3 linked regions of the Homo sapiens genome follow. The protein of the gene in region 2 interacts with the protein of the main gene of each other region in a biochemical or structural test. Each region holds a gene or a part of one and is shown on either strand. Other genes may lie near its edges.

What was found. Proteins that work in one complex are often made in the same cells at the same time.
Region 1: the proteins of CDK1 (region 2) and GADD45A form a complex in vitro, tested with the Homo sapiens proteins (5 studies listed by BioGRID).
Region 3: of the proteins of CDK1 (region 2) and WEE1, one has a biochemical effect on the other in vitro, tested with the Homo sapiens proteins (5 studies listed by BioGRID, with this or other methods).

Annotation. Positions count from the first base shown.
Region 1 is NC_000001.11:67,680,876-67,688,231, forward strand, and holds the start of GADD45A (growth arrest and DNA damage-inducible protein GADD45 alpha), read left to right. Parts: upstream 1-4,325; 5' UTR 4,326-4,619; coding exon 4,620-4,663; intron 4,664-5,149; coding exon 5,150-5,251; intron 5,252-5,474; coding exon 5,475-5,712; intron 5,713-6,785; coding exon 6,786-6,899; 3' UTR 6,900-7,356. UniProt on the Homo sapiens protein: In T-cells, functions as a regulator of p38 MAPKs by inhibiting p88 phosphorylation and activity.
Region 2 is NC_000010.11:60,774,026-60,781,477, forward strand, and holds the start of CDK1 (cyclin-dependent kinase 1), read left to right. Parts: upstream 1-4,452; 5' UTR 4,453-4,545; exon of another isoform or gene 4,546-4,643; intron 4,644-6,115; 5' UTR 6,116-6,140; coding exon 6,141-6,177; intron 6,178-7,452. UniProt on the Homo sapiens protein: Plays a key role in the control of the eukaryotic cell cycle by modulating the centrosome cycle as well as mitotic onset; promotes G2-M transition via association with multiple interphase cyclins.
Region 3 is NC_000011.10:9,576,669-9,583,700, reverse strand, and holds part of WEE1 (wee1-like protein kinase), read right to left. Parts: intron 6,560-7,032; coding exon 6,438-6,559; intron 5,674-6,437; exon of another isoform or gene 5,570-5,673; intron 2,170-5,569; coding exon 2,023-2,169; intron 1-2,022. UniProt on the Homo sapiens protein: Acts as a negative regulator of entry into mitosis (G2 to M transition) by protecting the nucleus from cytoplasmically activated cyclin B1-complexed CDK1 before the onset of mitosis by mediating phosphorylation of CDK1 on 'Tyr-15'.

The sequences.
Region 1 (7,356 bases), on a different chromosome or scaffold from region 2:
TCACACCTGTAATCCCAGCACTTTGCGAGGCCAAGGTGGGAGGACTGCTTAAGCCCAGGCGTTTGAGACCAGCCTGGGCAACAAAGCAAGACCCCGTTTCTTTGGAAAATTTTAAAATTAGGCTGGTGTGATGGCATGTGCCTATAGTCCCAGGTACTCAGGAGGCTGAGGTAGGAAGATCGCTTGAGCCTGGGAGTTCAAGACTGCAGTGAGCTATGACAGTGCCACTGCACTCTAGTCTGGATGACAGAGGATGACCCTGTCTCAAAAAAGAAAAAAAAAAAAGCAAACTCACAAATCTGTTCAAGGTGCAAAAACAACCTACCAGTGGCCAATCACCAACTCAGACCACCTACTTCCCTCACCAGTGATTAGGCTACAAAGCAGAGACTCTCAGAACATTCCTCCCATGATAGAAGCCTTCTGATACGCACCGACAGAGAGGTGAGGGGTTAGGGGGTGTTGATCTTGAAGAATGTTCTAGTTAGTCTCTTCATCTGACTTCTCCACTGGCTGGGCCTTGCTTGGCTGGTGAAATGTGAGCAGCTGATGGCAGCACAAGGTGGCCAGCCCAAAGCTCAAATTAACACTATGATTACTACCATGATTCTTAATAGCTGAAGAGAATTTCCACAGGATAAGGATTTATTGAACACACAAAAAAGATGGCATTAAGAATATTATACTAGTTTTTTGTTGTTGTTTTTGTTTTTGTTTTGAGACGGAGTTTCAATCTTGTCACCCAGGCTGGAGTGCAATGGCACCATCTCGGCTCACTGCAACCTCCACCTCCAGATTCAAGTGATTCTCCTGCCTCAGCCTCCCGAGTAGCTAAGATTACAGGTGCCTGCCACCGCGCCTGGCTAATTTTTGTATTTTTAGTAGAGCTGGGGTTTCACCATGTTAGCCAGGCTGGTCTCAAACTCCTTAGCCAGGCTGGTCTCAAGCTCCTGACCTCAGGTGATCCACCCGCCTTGGCCTCCCAAAGTGCTGGGATTACAGGTGTGAGCCACCACACCTGGCCCCAACTAATTTTTGTATTTTTAGTAGAGGTGGGGTTTTACCATGTTGGCCAGGCTGGTTTTGAACTCCTGACCTCAGGTGATCCGACCTCCTCAGCCTCTCAAAGTGCTGGGATTACAGGCGTGAGCTACTGCACCTGACCAGGAACCTTATGATTTTTAACAAGAAAAAATAATACAATACAATTCTAGGTAGGTGGAAAATACATCCATCATAGTTGAACTGATCTTCTCCTTTGATGTGGACAATGATCTAATACTGAAATAACAAGCATTATATTTCTTTCAGATGTTAAAGCATTGATTGTTTTTTGAAAGAAAGAAAGAATAATTCTGCATTATGGAACCAGTAGTAGGAATGTATGTAGGATAAGCATGACTAAAATATCAAAAAGATCTTTAATATGCAAAGCAAGTAGCAGTGCTAAAATAATTGAACAATTCTTGAGTATATATTTCCATATGATTTCTAAATATAATCATTTGGTATCTTTACAAACATTACTACAAGAGCATTCTACTCCTGTGTACTTGGCAGTTGTCAGAGTTACCTGTAGTGGTTTTTAAAATGACATCACATATTGGAGTTATCACACTGATTATAAAGAAATATATATATATATATAATATTGATATAGGAAAATTTCTCTGATTTACCATTGACTATCAATGTCCTCCAGGACTAATAAACAGTTAATGATAAATCAACTATGTCCATTCTAATGTGTAACTACAATCTAACTGTGTAGCTAAATGCAGTTTTTACTTCCAGTCATGAGGCCCAACTTTGAAGATAATCACTGAGAAAACATTCTAGGTATACTCAGCAATCAGGCAAAATGATGTAACGTATCTGAGTCAGAAAGTATGACAAATGAATATTTTTGCATACTGGAAGCCCAAGCTTATCTCAGAGAAAATCCCCAAAATACTTGGGCAAATAACTTTCTGATGAAGTCAAATATAGCATGCAGTATAATTTTTGAGTGGAGGACTAAGCCTATAATAAGAAGTAACCATTTGATATCACATTTTTACTGGATATAGTCGACTTGGGTGGGGCACTTTAGGACTGTGGTTCATTTGAATTGGTGTAAACAATACACCGGTTCTACTGTCCTACAGCCTCCATTCAGATGACTGAAGTCATGGGACTTTCAGCATAGCTAGCTGATGACAGTGCATACTATTTTGTCCCAAAATCCAGTTCAAGCATGGACATACCAATAAGAGCCTAAGCTCTTTAAAGGCAAAGGACCAGGAATTGTACAGTTCTTGGTATAGAAGAAGACAGGCAAAAGTGTTTTTGAACTAACGTTAAATGTGCAATATGTTAGAATTCATGCAATGCACAGGACTGCAGGATTCTGATATCTTATTTAACTCTCAAATTCTATTCAACTCAATAAACCTTGACTGTGCTTCTACTAAATGCAGGTATTGTACTAGGAGCTGAGGACACCAAACTGATGAAGTCCTTGCTGTCAAGAAACTCACATGATTCCCTAATTCTTTGTCAGCTTGCTGTGATCACATTTTCTTCCCAAGAACCTCTAAGAAATGCCTAGTGGATAGAACCTTGGAGTTCCACGGAACATATTAACAATCGCCAAATGATGACTCAGGCTAGATTGTGTAATTCAGGTTTTGTCTGCAAAACTGAAAATGCTTCGGTAACCTACCTAAATTTCAATGTTGAGGAATTCTTTAAGAAAGACATCAAATGTTAAGATTTAAGGCATAGATATGAGATACATAGTCATGCTTAGGTGAATTATGCACTGACCATGACCATTTCTTTACTCAAATGTTGTCCATGGCTGACAACACAGTGAAAAAATGAGTGCAAAATGACAACTCAAATAAATGAACCAGAAAACCTATCACTTTTCTTTTCCACCAAATTAAGATCAAGAGAGCTGGAGAATATTTTGTCTAGAGTGATAAAAACATAAGGGTGCAAAACTTCCAGGTACCTTTGCAGAAATTACTTCTGTGACCTTTGGCTGTACAGCAACCTTAATAATGCAAGCACTGTTTTGAATGCAAGCATGTGGGAGCCATTTTCACCACTTTTGATGACTTCAGTAGGTTTAAGAAATGTTTTTGCTTTTATTGCATAAACCATAAAACAAAGGAAGGGACTTTTGAACTACTCAGTGAGAGTCTATATATTAAAGTTTGTTTTTCAAAAATGTGTAACTACCATTTGCAGTTTTAAAGGTCTGCTTTCCACCTACAAGTTGCCATTATCTCAAAGGTGAAATTTTAGCATATGACTAAAAACTTCCTATAGTTACAGCTTCATGATTCAGCATCTAACATCAATAATTCACAGTGAGATCATAGGAGGCTCTCTGTGGAAGGTAACGACATACATACGTTAGGAAAGGAAGCTTAGGGCATATCGAGAGCATTTTGAATTTAGACTTGTGGGCTGTGTGGGTGTCAGATGGTTGTCTCTCAGCTGGTGGGCGTCCAGAAGGATCCTTGTTTGGGCAAGGCTCTTTGAGAAAGGAGAATCTGGGTTGCCAGGGATTCCCACATGTGGTCACCAGCTCCCCACGCAGACCAGCTCACGATTTCCCAGTTACACCGGGCAGGTGGGAAACCGTTCTGCTTTCTGTGGAAAAGATTCTAACTTGGTTCCCTGCCATCCCTGAATACAAACGGGTTGGTTTTTCTTTTTTCAGCTTCCAACCCTTGCAGCTTTCCAAAAATAAATCAAACCAGCCATCAGGGCACCGAAATAATACTACTGCTAATAAGCAGCTTCGCCTAGACTTAGATAAACAACACTTCTGAGGTAAACTTTGCCCCGGAGGTCTGGAGACACTTTTTTAATGTAACCTGCTTACTAATAATTACTAGACTTCAGTGCATTAACCCTGGAAATAGATTTTAATAGCCACCCCTTAAAACAAAAGACATGAAAAGATAATAAGAAAAAAGTGCCGCAACTATTATAGAAAAACACTTGGCAGCCTGCTTCAGCCCAAGCTGAGGCCACCTCTAGCCTCTGCTAAAGCCCCCCACTCCCAATGGTCCCCGCCAACCGGATAAGAGTGCGCGCGGGACCCGCCTTCCCCTCTCGGCACCGCCCCCGCCCCCGCCCCCTCGGCTCGCCTCCCGCGTGGCTCCTCCCTTTTCCGCTCCTCTCAACCTGACTCCAGGAGCTGGGGTCAAATTGCTGGAGCAGGCTGATTTGCATAGCCCAATGGCCAAGCTGCATGCAAATGAGGCGGAAGGTGGTTGGCTGAGGGTTGGCAGGATAACCCCGGAGAGCGGGGCCCTTTGTCCTCCAGTGGCTGGTAGGCAGTGGCTGGGAGGCAGCGGCCCAATTAGTGTCGTGCGGCCCGTGGCGAGGCGAGGTCCGGGGAGCGAGCGAGCAAGCAAGGCGGGAGGGGTGGCCGGAGCTGCGGCGGCTGGCACAGGAGGAGGAGCCCGGGCGGGCGAGGGGCGGCCGGAGAGCGCCAGGGCCTGAGCTGCCGGAGCGGCGCCTGTGAGTGAGTGCAGAAAGCAGGCGCCCGCGCGCTAGCCGTGGCAGGAGCAGCCCGCACGCCGCGCTCTCTCCCTGGGCGACCTGCAGTTTGCAATATGACTTTGGAGGAATTCTCGGCTGGAGAGCAGAAGACCGAAAGGTGAGTCGGCCTGCGGACTCTTCCGGCCCGAACTTCTCTTACCTACCCCGCGCTCCCCGGTGCAGCCGGGCTGTGGAAGGCTTGCAGGGGAGGAAGCTAAAAAGTTTGCACAGGGCAACTCCCGCCCTTGCTCCCTCGGGACTCTCCGTGGAGCTCCCACGGACTGAAAGAGCGTGCCCCCCAACCCGAACGAGCCCCGCCGGGGCCTTTGCAAAGGGCAGCAGTGGCCGTCGCTGCCCGTGCGGCTCCCGTGGCTGGCAGCCTGTGGCAGGGGCACTCTCGGGACTTCTCACGGGACGCCCGGTCCTTGGGCGTGCAGGGGTCATGGGGGGTGACGGGGCCGCGGGAGCGCCGGGTTTTCGTAGAGCCCAGGTGCGCGGTGGTGCTTGCATTCGAGAGGGAGGGGCGTGGTACCGGACGAGGGGGGCGGCGATGGCCCCGAGGGCACCGGGGCTGACGGGACCCCTCGCCCTTGCCCGCGTGTAGGATGGATAAGGTGGGGGATGCCCTGGAGGAAGTGCTCAGCAAAGCCCTGAGTCAGCGCACGATCACTGTCGGGGTGTACGAAGCGGCCAAGCTGCTCAACGTGTAAGTGGGGCCCTTGCGCGTCCCCCATGGCACCCCTTCCCGCCCCAGCCCGGGAGGTCGCCTTGGCTGGGCGCCCCTCGCCCGGCCGCGCCACTTCCTGTCGCTTTTCTGCCTGTCTCGGAAGGGAGGGGGCGAGCGGGCCGGGCGGCGACCCCCAGGGACCCGGGCAGTGGTTGAGGGCGCCCGCGCTTCTGCGCTCACTGGCCCCGCCCGCTGCCCCCAGCGACCCCGATAACGTGGTGTTGTGCCTGCTGGCGGCGGACGAGGACGACGACAGAGATGTGGCTCTGCAGATCCACTTCACCCTGATCCAGGCGTTTTGCTGCGAGAACGACATCAACATCCTGCGCGTCAGCAACCCGGGCCGGCTGGCGGAGCTCCTGCTCTTGGAGACCGACGCTGGCCCCGCGGCGAGCGAGGGCGCCGAGCAGCCCCCGGACCTGCACTGCGTGCTGGTGACGGTAAGGGACTGGGGGACTGCAGCCTGCAGGGTAGAGCCCCGGAAGGACGGGAGTCAGGGCTGGGTTGCCTGATTGTGGATCTGTGGTAGGTGGGGGTCAGGAGGGTGGCTGCCTTTGTCCGACTAGAGTGTGGCTGGACTTTCAGCCGAGATGTGCTAGTTTCATCACCAGGATTTTCTGTGGTACAGAACATGTCTAAGCATGCTGGGGACTGCCAGCAGCGGAAGAGATCCCTGTGAGTCAGCAGTCAGCCCAGCTACTCCCTACCTACATCTGCACTGCCTCCCGTGACTAATTCCTTTAGCAGGGCAGATTAGATAAAGCCAAATGAATTCCTGGCTCACCCCTCATTAAGGAGTCAGCTTCATTCTCTGCCAGTCAGAGCTAAAAATAGAAATTGTGTAGGAGACAAACCTTGTTAATTCCCTAGAAATACATTAAGAGGATAGAGTGGAATTTTTTTTCTCTGCAATCTTGCATTTTTTTAATGGCTCTTTTTTTTTTTCCTGATAAAAACCTTTGGTAGGTAGGGAAGTTATGTTTTCAGGGGTAAATGTGCTACTTTTGTCTTCTAAATTTTGCTCTTTTTTGACTGGTCTAGTCAAGTGACAGCCCGATTATTTTGCTACTCCTTAAAAGTACTATTCTGTCTCTTGGAGTATGGTTGATGGCAATTCCAGTTAACTGCTGTGCAGCTCTCATCTCATTGTGCACACAGCATGGAAATCTTTCTCAAAACTGTTTCACTCAGGTCAGGGTAACAAGTTTGGTAGAGCAAACCGGTGAATGATACTCTCATGCAAAACTGAACAGATATGCAAACATATGTATGTGGTTCAGCTTGGGTTGCATGGGTTCAGACTTTGCAATGTGTAGTTTAATAGGTAATTACCCTTAACGCTTTTGCAGGGAACCCAACTACCTTGAAGAAACTTTAATTTTTTTGTGCTTCTAATTTGTCTCCATGTCACATAGCCAAAATATAGAATGTTCAAGTGTTTTCTCCTCAAAAGTATAATTACTAGAATATACTGGTTTTTAAAATAAGTTTATTTTTATAAATTTGTTTCCAGAATCCACATTCATCTCAATGGAAGGATCCTGCCTTAAGTCAACTTATTTGTTTTTGCCGGGAAAGTCGCTACATGGATCAATGGGTTCCAGTGATTAATCTCCCTGAACGGTGATGGCATCTGAATGAAAATAACTGAACCAAATTGCACTGAAGTTTTTGAAATACCTTTGTAGTTACTCAAGCAGTTACTCCCTACACTGATGCAAGGATTACAGAAACTGATGCCAAGGGGCTGAGTGAGTTCAACTACATGTTCTGGGGGCCCGGAGATAGATGACTTTGCAGATGGAAAGAGGTGAAAATGAAGAAGGAAGCTGTGTTGAAACAGAAAAATAAGTCAAAAGGAACAAAAATTACAAAGAACCATGCAGGAAGGAAAACTATGTATTAATTTAGAATGGTTGAGTTACATTAAAATAAACCAAATATGTTAAAGTTTAAGTGTGCAGCCATAGTTTGGGTATTTTTGGTTTATATGCCCTCAAGTAAAAGAAAAGCCGAAAGGGTTAATCATATTTGAAAACCATATTTTATTGTATTTTGATGAGATATTAAATTCTCAAAGTTTT
Region 2 (7,452 bases):
TCACTGCCTTGTTCACATTTTTTTGTTCAAGTCCAACGTCTAATCCAAAACTTTTAGCATGACCTTGAACATTACCTTCAAGGTATAGATATTATTTAACTACCTAGCCTAATGTTTATGACCCTTGCTGAGCACCCAGATTCTGTTTATGTTCAGCGTACTGAATTAATTTCAGTCTACAAACTTGCATTGTTCTTTCTTGTCAATGGATCAAGCTCTCCACCTTCATTTGTCTTCTTGGCAAACTCTTTTTATTCCTTAAGACTCAGTTCAGTCAACTTTGCTATGAAGCCTTGCCTGATGCCCTCTCCACTATGTTCTGCACACAGCAGTCTTCACCATATTGCATTGTAAACATTTGCACCCCACCTAGGTGGAAGATCCACAGCTACTCACCTGTTATCCTTGATCCTCATTAGTCCCAAGGTTGACATATGAATCTCTTCTCCCTACACCATGCCCAGTTTCTAAAATTCCAATGAGAGATTAAGGTGGGTTGACATGTATGCATTTAAAGTACAACTACCAACAGGTTTAAAGTGATCTCTTTCTCTTTTTGTGGGGCGAGAATGAAGATAGGGGGCATGGAGGTTGTATATGACAAACTTTTATTATCTGTATTTTACACTTTGGATTATTTCTTAAAATTTACAGAAAAATCACATTACTTTTATAATCAGAAAAACACCCAACTCTGTCATAGCAACGATAGTTCAGTATTTTCACTTGTGGTGAAAAGACCTGAATCTATATATCTTGTATTTTCTGTCACTTTCCTTTCTGAATTAACATGAAAAAGGATAAATCTTCTTCTTTTGCATACATTTTCCGGCAACTTTTAAATTTTTTTTTTCTTTTTATATATTTGTCTGTATAGAGACAGGGTCTTACTATGTTGCCAAGCTGGCCTCAAACTCCTGGCCTCAAGGGATCCTCCACCTTGGCCTCCCAAAGTGCTGGGATTACAGGTGTGAGCCACTGTGCCTGGCCAATTTTTACCATTTTTATCCAGTAGCAATGGAGGCCTTGGCAAGACTGATTCATTCATTCATTTATTTATTCGTTCATTTTTGGGCTAGGGTAGTACATTCACGTGGCTCAATATTCAAAAGATACAAAACTCTCCTTTCCACCTCTGTACCAGGTCACTCTTGTATTCCACAGAGGGCACATTTTTATTAGTTTCTTCCACCTCCTTCCCGAAGTGTATTTTCTTTTCTTTTCTTTTTTTTTTAGAAGGAGTCTCGCTCTATCACTAGGCTGGAGTGCAGTGGCGCCATCTCGGCTCACTGCAACATTCGCCTCCAGGGTTCAAGCGATTCTCCTGACTCAGCCTCCCGAGTAGCTGGGATTACAGGCATGTGCCACCACGCCCAGCTAATTTTTGTATTTTTAGTAGAGATGGGTTTTCACCACGTTGGCCAGGATGGTCTCGATCTCCTGACAACGTGATCCACCCGCCTTGGCCTCCCAGAGTGCTGAGATTATAGGCGTGAGACACCGCGCCCGGCCCGGAGGTGTATTTTCAAGCAAATGTTCTCACATTTTTCTTATCTAAAAAAAACACTTGTCTTGACCTGGGCTGCCATAACAAAATGCCATAGACTACGTGCCTTAAACAACAAAATTTTATTTTCACTCAGTTCTGGAGGCTTGGTGTGCAAGTTCAGAGGGCGGGCAACATCAGGTTCTGGCAAGGGCTGACTTCCTCACTGACAGGTGCCTTCTCATTCTAACCTCACATGAGAGCAACCAAGCTCTTCAGCGTCTCTTCTTATAAGAGCACTAATTCCATCACGAGGGCCCCACCCTCATGTCCTCATCTAAACCTAATTACCTCCCAAAGCCTCATCTCCAAACACCATCCCAGTGGGGTGAGGCCTTCAACGTATGAATTAGCGGGGTGGGGGGACAACAAACATTCAGACCATAGAAATACGTAAATATAAGAAACAAAACCAAAAAGACTTATGTGCAATACCAACTGATCTTTTCTTTTCCTTCCAAAATGGAGTTTACCAAAATACAAATATGAAGTTTTTCAGAGCACATACCTTCCCCTGCTCTCCTCTGCAGTTTTTTTTTTTTTAATACCACCTCTAGGGTAGTTTTCCTAAAATATGGTTCCAAGGCTGTGTGTACCTCTCCTGCTCAGATCCTTTGGAACAGTGTTCAGCGCTCATCAGGATTCTGACTGTAAACTCCCTTCTCTGACTTTAACATCACAGGATGCAGTACTCCCTACATTCTACCATGGGGGGCACCCTGAATTACCTGGGTTGACTTTCTGGCCTCTGTGCTCTACTTATACAATTTCCTCTGTATGGAAGGCCCACTCCAGAATCCTTTCCCCAGCCTTTGTTCAAATGTCACTTCTGCTAGCATTAGCAGTTTCCTCCTCTGGGTTCTCACATTGCCCTGTAACATAAGTTACAAGGTAAGTACCAGAAGAGAATTCCCAATTATCATCCTGCTCCCCTACCCTCAACACCTCCAGCGGTAACTGTATCTTATTCATTTTTGTGTCTATGAAGCACAGTGTTGCACTTTGGAGATACTACATAGAAGTTGGCCCAAAGGGTAATAAACTGTATTTGCCAAGATGATAGCATGGATTTACAATAACCTCTGAAACTTTATAAAGAAAGATGATTGAGTTAAATTGATACACCTAGCATCACAGCTGTGGAAGCTTGTGGTCTTCTTTATGTTAAAGGTAAAATGGATATAATGAATTAGTTGCCATTTTTAGATGATATAGAAGTTGAATTCCTCTTAAGCCTCTCAAAGAGAAAGACATATTAAAATTCATTAAAACCAGTACCATAAACTGCACAGAACAGCCTGGTTCCCTAGAGCACTTCTCTGGGGCAGTGAGTTTTCATTTAAAAAATGAAGTTTGGATTTTAAACATAAGTTTTAAAAGTGATTAGGCTCCAGCAGGAGTTCTTAAATTCCTACCTACACCATGACTCCCAAATGCTCTGCCTCTGTTGCCTAGGAACAAAAATTGTCAAGGTTGAGCCAGATGCAATGTATAACACCAGATGATAGATGCAGCTCATTGTGTTAAAAGGTGTTAAACACTTAAGTGCATGTGATATACTCTATATCACAAGGGTAAGGAAGTTCCATTCCATATCCTGATTTGGGTCTTCTAATACATACTTGTAGTGGATGTGGTAATCAGTCTTTGTTCTATGTCCCATTAGGATCAATGCAACCAGAAATCCTTAAAATGGATTTTTATTATGTCTAGCTCTGTTTTACTGTTCTATTTGTTTATTTTAAAAAGATTTTAGAATGGTGTTTAGGTTGGGCTGGTGGCTCACGCCTGTAATCTCAGCACTTTGGGAGGCCAAGGCAGGAGGATTGCTGGAGCCTAGGAGTTGGAGACCAGCTAGGGCAACATAAGGAGACATTGTCTCCGCAAACAAACAGAAAAAAAAAAAGTAAGAAAGAAAGAGAGAAAGAAGGAAAGAACAAGAAAAAGGAAAAAAAAATTAACTGCAGTAAGTGCAGAAATCTCTCTCAAGGATATGATGGATGGCAATGAAGACAGAGTTTTTGACACTGGATTATTTAAAGCATAATTTAAGCCTCTTTCTCTCCCCTCATAGAATTGTGAATTTTTGTGTTTTAATTATATTTAAGCCAGGCGTGGTGGCGAGTGCCTGTAGTCGCAGCTGCGCTGGAGGCTGAGGCCGATTGCTTGAGCCCAGGATTTGGAGGCCAGCATGCGCAACATAATGAGACCCAGTCTCTAAATGCATGCCTCTCTCTATATATTTAAAATTCTGATGTGAAAATATTTTAAAATTTAATACATTTCAAATGTTTTTAATTGTATAATAAACAAAATGTAAATAATAAAATAATTTAATATTAAATTCAAAAATGAGGTAGAAACAAAGCACAGCGATATAAATAATAAATTTTCCTTTACATTTTTGAGGCGGTCTTTTGAGTTTTCCATTTCCTTCTTAAGGTCACTGAAATGTGCTCCTTGGAGCCAGCCCGCAAATCACGCATTTAGAAAAACATAACTATACACTCCTAACCCTAAGTATTAGAAGTGAAAGTAATGGAATCTCGATGTAAACACAATATCACTTTTTTGATGAGCTATTTTGAGTATAATAAATTTGAACTGTGCCAATGCTGGGAGAAAAAATTTAAAAGAAGAACGGAGCGAACAGTAGCTTCCTGCTCCGCTGACTAGAAACAGTAGGACGACACTCTCCCGACTGGAGGAGAGCGCTTGCGCTCGCACTCAGTTGGCGCCCGCCCTCCTGCTTTTTCTCTAGCCGCCCTTTCCTCTTTCTTTCGCGCTCTAGCCACCCGGGAAGGCCTGCCCAGCGTAGCTGGGCTCTGATTGGCTGCTTTGAAAGTCTACGGGCTACCCGATTGGTGAATCCGGGGCCCTTTAGCGCGGTGAGTTTGAAACTGCTCGCACTTGGCTTCAAAGCTGGCTCTTGGAAATTGAGCGGAGAGCGACGCGGTTGTTGTAGCTGCCGCTGCGGCCGCCGCGGAATAATAAGCCGGGTACAGTGGCTGGGGTCAGGGTCGTGTCTAGGGGACGGCCGAGGGCCTCGGAGGGCGAGTATTGAGGAACGGGGTCCTCTAAGAAGGCCGGACTGGAGGTCAGGGATCTGCGCGGGGCCCGGCTGGGCCTCGGGGGGCGGTGGGCAGGGCCTTCGCCTGGGTCTGGCCGTGTGAGCCACACTGGGCTGGCTTTAGAGGGAGGCTATGGGAGCCCAGCCTGGCGGGGTTAGGCGGCGTGGGGGTGGGGGTTCGGGGCTGCAGTCATGAGTCGAGGTCGGCTGTTCTCAGGAACTGCCTGAAGAGGCTTTCGGGTCTTGATTGAAGCAAAATCCGCTCCCCCACGCTGAGCGCCTGCGGAGTAGCAGGCTCTTTCCTGGGCCCGGCCCCTGCGCGCCCTGCCATCCCGCCTCGGGGGTGGGAAAGTGGGACCGCACCTGGGCCAGGTACAGGCGCGGGTCCCTAGAGCCAGGCCGCCCTGAGAAACCGATCCTGGAACTCGTGGGCCTTCTTGGGCTTGCTCTGCCCACGGCCCCGGCCCACCTGGAGCTGTTAAGAACAGTCAGCCCAGGCACTTAACTCTCATGAGCAGTGTAGTGCAGTTTTTTTCATTTAAAAAGATACATCTCTGCTTCTTTCTGGATTGATTTTTCTTTGAAGATGAATGTGAGAAATAGAACTTAAAGGTCTATTCTGAGTGTGCTTTATAAATGATTTTATCATCAGTGATGGGTGTTAGAAAAATCTAGGTAATTATGCCTGGAGTTCTGACGTTTCATTGGCAAACTTCAGAGGAAGTCTTGAACTTCTGGTTGTCAGCTTTTTTTTTTAACCCATTCATTGTGATTCAAGTATACCGTTTTTCTGCTTAGTCCTTGACATTGTTTAGGTTATAATTAGAATTTTATCTGTGGAATTGCACTTTTCATTCTTTTGTTTTACGGTGCTTAAGTGATATTTCCTACTCTTGGAAAAAGTACCTTGAAAGTCTTGAGCATGTTTGTCTGTGACCTCAGCAAGCAGAGGAAAAAGATTAAAATTGTCACGTGGGCAACTGTAAACACTTAAAATGTTTTTGTCGTTTTAAACAAAATTTTCCTAATGAACAGTCTGAACACATTTTAGTTCTGTCCTCATAACTTTAAAAAATAATGTTTTGAATAAAATTAGGAGTATCATAAAGCGGTATAAATTTGTTGAAATATTTGGGTATAACTTTGGCACACGCAGGTACTACTTTAAAGTGTCACAAAAAGGGAACATAATTCTGGTTTTTGTTTGGAAAGAATAGACAAGTTGATACCTGAATTTGAGGGTTATTTTGATTGGAAGAAGCTAAATACTACACTAGTATAGAATATACACGTTTCCAATGTCTCAGGAGTCAAGAAGGATGGAAAGTTATTGTAGGAGTCCTTACCCTTGTAAATATTGTTTGAATGTAATTAATATTTATGGAATACTTATGCTGCAGTAGGCACTGTGGAAAATGCTTTACATATAGTGTTTCATTAATGCTTAAAACTACTCGAGTTAGTGGCATGTAATTAAGTCAGTTTTTCCTTCACTTTAGGATCTACCATACCCATTGACTAACTATGGAAGATTATACCAAAATAGAGAAAATTGGAGAAGGTGAGTGGTTTTAGTAAAATAAATTTTATGGAATGATTTAACAATGCTACAACTTCTGTAATATGAACACATTTAAATATTTATTAAAATTCAACCATTAAGTTGTCTTGTAGTACCAGTGTGCATTAACATATGTTCTTTACTTAATAAACGCAAATTTGCTCACATTTCAAGAGAATTGAAATTACCGAATCCCTAATGACCGTTCGCCTCACCCCCATAGTCTTACAGTCTTCTGATACTAAACACTTATAGTAGTACTTGTATTTTGAAGACACTATTGATAACTTGCATGTGTGTTGAGGGGCAGAGGTTAGGGCTGCAGAATTATGCTAACTTCATAATATATTTTTAGTTTTAGTCTCTTTCAATTGTTTTTAGGATGATAAATATTTTTATCCAGACTTTATAGACTGGTTACAATAATTGACTTAATCTAATTTAAATAAAATTTCTATTTAGTTACCCTAAGTATAAATGACCTGTCATATAGACATGTTTAAGCTATTCTAAAATTATAACTTATGTATATAATCCTTCCCTTTCTGTGGTACTTGAAGGAATGTTTAGATCTATATATGGCACAAATGAGGGGTATATCCCTTCGCCTGTTCCTCGACTCCAGCAGAACATTCTCGATTCTCCAGGTACAAAATAATTTGCTAATAGAATCCAGTTTATATAGGTTCTGCCAGAAGAAAATTCCCAACTATATTTTTAATGTGATCAAAGACCCCACTTGACAAGAAATAGTGAAAAACAAGGGGGAATACTGGAGGGAATTTAGTGGAATAGGAGTGACAAGTTAGTGTGGTGTTCGATTGGAGGTGTGTGTGTGTATACATATATATATATATTTTTTTTTTAAATCACTTAAATACCTCATACCCATTCTACTAAACAAATTTTGCTGCTGAATTAAAAATATGTGATTAGTATGTCTAATGCTGTGTAGTGTGTTTCTTAAATTCCCAGAGAATTTGTGTTGGTTTTAGTTTGGCATAAAAAGAGACCTTCTTAAAGTATAAATATATTTTTCTTTAAGATGATAGAACTCCAAACATACAGGAGACTGCAGATTTGACTTCTGAGAAAAGTACTTTAATTGCTACTAGAAATAGGAGCAGTTAAAAGAATGTAATTTTAAATTTAATCCATTACATACATGTAAGTCATAAGACTTCCATTCTTTATTTCTAGCAGTGTGACAGTGGTAAACCCTCTTAACTTTTCTGGATCTCAGTTTCTGCCTCTGCAAATGGTGATAATTGGACT
Region 3 (7,032 bases), on a different chromosome or scaffold from region 2:
GGAGTCATCTATACGTTTTACTTTCTTTATAGGACAACTTATTTTGTGATGGTATTTGTAAATTGGAAGGTTTTTTTTTTTTTTTTTTGAGACAGTCTCGCTCTGTCGCCCAGGCTGGAGTGCAGTGGTGCGATCTCAGCTCACTTCAACTTCCTCCTCCCGGGTTCAAGCAATTCTCCTGCCTCAGCCTCCAGAGTAGCTGGGACTACAGGTGCCTGCCACCACACCCAGCTAATTTTTTGTATTTTAGTAGAGACGAGGTTTCACCGTGTTGTCCAGGCTGGTGGTGAACTCCCAAGCTTAGGCAATCCACCCGCCTCAGCCTCCCAAAGTGCTGGGATTACAGGCGTGAGGCACCACGCCCGGCGAATTTTTTTTTTCTTTTTTTGAGACGGAGTCTCACTTTGTTGCCTAGGATGGAGTGCAATGGTGCAATCTCGGCTCACTGCAACCTCCGCCTCCCGGGTTCAAGCAATTCTTCTGCCTCAGCCTCCCGAGTAACTAGGACTATAGGTGCGCACCACTACACCTGGCTAATTTTTGTAATTTTAGTAGAGACGGGGTTTCATCATATTGGCCAGGCTGGTCTCGAACTCCTGCCTCGTGATCTGCCTGCCTTGGCCTGCCAGAGTGCTGGGATTACAGGCGTCAGCCACTGCACCTGGTCTAAATTTGAAGATTTTTAAACTTCACATCCCTTAATATTTTCAACTTTTATACCTTATAAGGGTCTATTATATTTGTCTAACACTTTATATGAGTACAGCTATTCCTTAAGAATTCACATTTACTGCCTTAAATCCAAATATATTTTTGTCTTTTGAAAATAAAAAACATGCTGGGCACGGTGGCTTACGCCTGTAATCTCAGCACTTTGGGAGGCCATGGTGGGCAGATCACAAGGTCAATAGTTCAAGACCAGCTTAGCCAACATGGTGAAACCCGTCTCTACTAAAAATACAAAAAATTAGCCGGGCATGGTGGTGTATGCCTGTAATCCCAGCTACTCGGGAGGCGGAGGCAGGAGAATCGCTTGAACGTGGGAGGCAGAGGTTACAGAGAGCTGAGACTGTGCCACTGCACTCCAGCCTGGGCAACAGAGCGAGACTCCATCTCAAAAAAAGAAAAAAAGAAAGAAGAAACTTTAGTGACTTGTTAACATACGCATATGAAATTCTAGCATATAACTCATAAAGTTGTACAAAATGACTGAAATTCTCACAAATCAACAGGTTTCCAAAGATTAATAAAACCTCACTAAATTCATCTAGCCTAAGATGCTTAACTTGAATCCATAATCCTTAGTTATAACTTCCAATTTATAGGAAATATAGGAGAAAAAGGAACAAGCTAAATGATACAAGAAGCAACTAGTCAAATCCAGAAAAAGGGATAGCTTGCAAGATAAGTGTATATTATTTTTACAAAGCAGAGGATGGGTTCTGAAAAAGAAAAACTGATATAACCAGATGCAATGCATGATCCTTAAGTAGATACTAATTTGAACAAATCAACTATTAAGGACTTGAGTCAACTGGGGAAATTTTAATATGGTCTGGCCTAGTGGAAGAGTGGGGCTTTAAACACAGATTTTTAGTGCCCTCATTAGTATCCCACCTGTAGTTCCTGTAAGATGCAGCAAAAATTTCTGGCTTTTAATAAAAATGAATTTATCTGGGCATGGTGGCACATGCCTATAGTCCCGGCTACTCGGAAGACTGAGGTGGGATGACTGCTTGAGCACGGGATGGGGAAGTTGCAGTGAGCGGAGATGGTGCCACTGCATTCCGGCCTGGGCCACAGAATGAGACACTGTCTCAAAAAAGTTTATCTCAAATTTTGGGGATTAACAAGGGAAGAGATGAATAGAAATCATAAAACAATATTGGTAAGTGGATCTAAGGCCTTTTAAAACTAACAATGAGAAAACAGAAGATATATATTTTTTCAATGTTGTCATAATGAAGTAATTTATTCTCTATAACCCCAAAGAACACAGGTCAGAAGATCTGCAATACTTACTAGGTTTTATATCCATGTGAACCAAAGACATTGAATGAATATACCTCAAGCCTCGGCCAACTTGCAAAAGGAGATCCTTCAACTCTGCTTCTTTAAAGTAACTCATGATTCTGTAGTTTTCACTTATAGCATCAGCTAAACTTCCACCTAACAAAGATAGAAAATATTAGCATTTTCTTCTTTCTGAAATATTTTCTTTCTTCCATCTTTACCAAATGAGTCTCAACCAACCAATCTCAACCAAGAAAGTGTTATTTTATAGGACCTTCTCCCTTCAACCTGCTTGTGAAATCAAAATTTTATTGTTTTTTCAATAGGTAATACATTTGCATGGGTACAAAATAAAATGTAAAGTCTCTCTCTCAATCATACACCTCAGCAATCCACCTGTTTCTTTCTCAGAGTAAACCAGTATTATCAGGTTGGCTTTTTTTTTGTTTGTTTTTGTTTTTAATTTATAAGAGACAGGGTCTATCTATGTTGCCCAGCTGGAATCCAGTGGCTATTCACAGGCTTGATCCCACTACTTATCAGCATAGGAGTTTTGACTTGTGCTGTTTCCAACTTAGGCCAGTTTACCCCTCTTTAGGCAACCTGGTGGTGCCCCACTCCACAGAGGTCACCATACTGATGCTCAACTTAGATCGGCATAGATCGGCATAGATGCTCAACATAGATCGGCACTACAGCCTAGAATTCCCAAACCCAAATTCAAATTCCCTGCTTCAGACTCCCAAGCAGCTGGGACTACAGGCACTGCCACCACGCCCAGCTCAGGTCTATGTATTCTTTTCAACTTTTTGCATAAATAACAGCATATGTTCATTATCTTAAAGATCACTCTATACCAATATACAAAGACAACCCATTTCTTCTTGTCTTTATAGAATTCCATTGTATAATTGAGTAGAAATGCATTTATTGGCTGGGCACAGTGGCTCACGCCTGTAATCCCAGCACTATGGGAGGCCGAGGCAGGTAGATCACGAGGTCAGGAGTTCGAGACCATGCAGGCCAACATGGCGAAACCCCGTTTCTACTAAAAATACAAAAATTAGCTGGGTGTGGTGGCGTGCACCTGTAATCCCAGCTACTCAGAAGGCAGGAGAATTGCTTGAACCTGGGAGGCGGAGGTTGCAGTGAGCCGATATCGGGCCATTGCACTCCAGCCTGGTGGCAGAGTGAGACTCAGTCCCCCGAAAAAAAAAAAAAAAAAGAAAGAAAGAAAGAAATGCATTTATCAGTCCCTCATTTGATGGACATTTTAAAATTATTTCCAAGCCTTTGCTATTACATACTATGGCCTAATAAATAACCTTGTACATTGGTAATTTCACGTACATTTAGTATATCACCTAGAAGCCAAATTGCTGGGTTAAAGGGTATGCACATTTGTAATATATGGAGATGGTGTGTTTTACACACACACACACACACACACACACACTCTTCTCCACAGAGAAGGCTGTACCAATATATATGCCCATTGTCAATGCATGAGCATACCTGTTTCCCCATACCCTTGACAAGTCTATAAATGTTATAGGTAAAAAGACAGTATTTTAGTATAGTTATAATTTATACTACTCTTACTATGAATGAGACCATAACCTGCTTTTATAGAATTAGTTAAATCAATCAGTTAATTTGTTTATATTTTTTCAAACTTTTAAAGTTTGTATTTCATCTCAAAGGCAATGAGGAATTGTTTTAAATATCTCCTGTTTAAGGCTTAGGAATAAAAAAATCAGAGCTGGGTACTAAAATTAGGAAGGTCAATGATGTATTAGTCAGAAAAGGAGGTCCTATAATTTAAATAAGAAAATAACATAACGTCAAATGTGTTTTTAAAATAAATTATACATCTCGGTATCTTAGTCTTAAGTATGTTCTCCTTACTTGTACAAATCTTGAACTGAGGGAGGGGAAAGAGTGCTCTAGAAGGGAGCAAACCAATAACGCTGTCAGACAAGATAGGCTAAGTCCTAGATCAAATGTGCTAAGAAAGAATATGGCTAATTCTCTTTTTTAGCAGGTCCAGCAACCATAGCTGTGCCCATTTCTTCTCTTATTGCTAGAAGGGCAAGAAAGGTGATGAGAGCAAAACAGGTTCTGACATTTCAGGTTCTCTTTCCCTATCCATCAATATTTTTCTACACTTGTTTATACAGGTTAATTCCAATCTATCACCAAACCAAGATAAAAGGCTTATAATGCAAATGAATAAGATAATAAGGAAATTAAATCACAATAAAGGGAATCAGTTACTCATGTACAAATAAATATCAGAATCCTTTTCCAGTGAAACTGTGGAAAAGATGTGAAGATGAGCCCTATTGGTATATTCAAAGCTTTATGTGGAGAGAGGAACGGTGGACACAGGAAACAAAAGAGATCACAAATGCATCCAGATAGTCGTATTTTCTTTTATCTAAGTAGGACAAATAGCCACACAAAGAGGCAGTCCTGTTTCATGCAGGACTATTTATTTTCTTCAAGAGTTTTATATTGCTTTAAGAGGCCGAGGCAGGTGGATCACGAGGTCAGGGTTCAAGACCAGCCTGGCCAACATGGTGAAACCCCATCTCTACTAAAAATACAAAAATTAGCTGGGAGTGGTGGCGCGCATCTGTAATCCCAGCTACTCAAAAGGCTGAGGCAGGAGAATCGCTTGAACCCTGGAGGCAAAGGTTGCAGTGAGCAGAGATTGCGCCACTGCACTCCAGCCTGGGCGACAGAGCAAGGCTCTGTCTCAAAAATAAATAAATAAATAAATAAATAAATAAATAAATAAATAAAAACTTATTTTCAATAGATTATTTTATAATCTAACATTACAGGACAAGGTTTTTGTAATCTGAGAGGGTAGCAAGACTACTCACTCAGTTCCCTATCTCCCAGGCCCACGTGAGTTTTCTCAGAATCATCTGATTTACACAACCATGTATTGGTAGGTTGCTACATATTTGACATTCCTGGACTACTAATGAACTATTCTGTTAAGAGAATTATTCACATCAAGAAGGTGAGAAAGAGAAAGAAGGAAACTGAAAAGAGATGGTGTCTAACAAATATCAAATGGAGACGACATTGTGGTCAAGTTGTTCTAGGTTAAATGCAATACCTGAAAAATGAAGGTTAAGAAATAGAATAATCCATAAGGTTGTGATAGTTACATAAATATTTTGATGGTATGAATAGAAACATTTCAAGAGCTGTGTGAAAAAAACTAGCAGCAAGGCTGTATACTAGACACTCAAGTTCTTTCAAGTGTGGAGAACTTTATTAAATAATGAGGAATCAGGTTTGAAAAATGGATCTTTTACTTCTGTTTTGTTCACTGTTTTTAAATATGGGGAACCTGAATCCATACCTACACCACTTATTTATTTACAAGTTATGAGATAACTGGTCTTGTTTATTTAAGGAATAATAAGAATCAACAAAAATAAATTTTGTTATCTCCTCTCAAGTGTTCACTAAACTCTAAATTGTCTATATTCACAGAAGATATACAGAAATAGAAACAAACTACAGATATTTTTCATTTCAGACTGGTAATGTGCTGATGTCGTAACAAGGTTTGAGGGAGGCACATTTCACACTTGAGTATGAAAACCCAATCATCACACTTATAAACTACAAAAGTGTTGAGAAATAATCCATAAAAGATTTGGTATATAATAATGACAGACGTCCATAAGAACCAGAATTCTGACCAAGACTTTGGTAAAGGTTTTTAATAGAAAAGGAGAGACATAAGTCGGCCCTTGAAGGACTTACCGAAACTGAAAGCTATACAAGACATCCAAACTTGAATCTATACATGCCTGTTTTGTTTCATCCTTAGGGGAGAGGAGGGAGAGACGACAAGCTAGAGAACTAAAAGAATGTAACATAATAAAGCGTTAGTGGATTCTAGGGTAGACTAGGTTGGATACGTGGGAGTAGGGCCGGACTACAGAATGCTTAAAGAAACAGCTGAATTTAGATCAACAGAGACTCAGTGACTAACAAACATCAGTTTTAGCAGCACCTCACATGAAATGGAAATCAAAGACCAGACACAGGAAGAATCTATTCAACTTAACACTTCATAATACTATATGCTTCACACACTACGCTAGGTACTACGGACACCAAAATATATGTGTCGAGGCCATAGTCTTGTCAAAAAGCTCAGTTGGAGCGACAAGCACATAAATAGTATGCGAAGTTCTACTACTGAGATATGTACAAGGTGCTTCAGAAAGGACAAGGTTTTTAACCTTGTACTTGAAATTTATGTTAGGTCTCTGATCTTTAAATTTATAAAAGATAAAAGTGACAGAAATAGAGCAAGATTTTAGATAACCATAAATATTTCCTCGATGTTCATTTTCTCAAGCTCACAAGAAAACCATTACATCACTCACCATTACAATATTCATTCTGTATAAGCATATGATCATCTTCTGCCCACGCAGAGAAATATCGAACTACATGAGAATGCTGTCCAAGCACTGCATGAGCATATACTTCTCTCAAAGCGTTCTGCCTAGAAGAAATTTGAGATTAATAGAATGGTAAATAATTTTCACTCAAGCTTAAACTGAATTAATTTATCTGAAACTTCATACAATAAATTTTTGGTATCTATTGTTATGCTAAAAAGCAACTTGCTTAAGAGAGAAGGGGTTTAGACTTGTAAGAGATTTTTCCAAAGGCAGATTCCATTAAAGATTTATCAGAAAGAAGAAATGTTGCTTGCCCTAGGACTCAGGTAAGAATAAACTCCATTTTACTGTGAATTCATGGATGCTGACTAGAAATAAGAAATTTAAGTTAGGTTCCAAAATCAGACTCATATTATTCAACAAGTCCAATAAGAACTGATGGTATTAAGTGAAAAGGACCTGATTAAATCATTACAGCTTCTCAAAAGTTAGAGATGGAATTCAGTGTTTGACCAGCTGAAACCTTAATGTTAGTAACACCATAGGGGACAAAAGAGCAAAAGACAAAATGTTT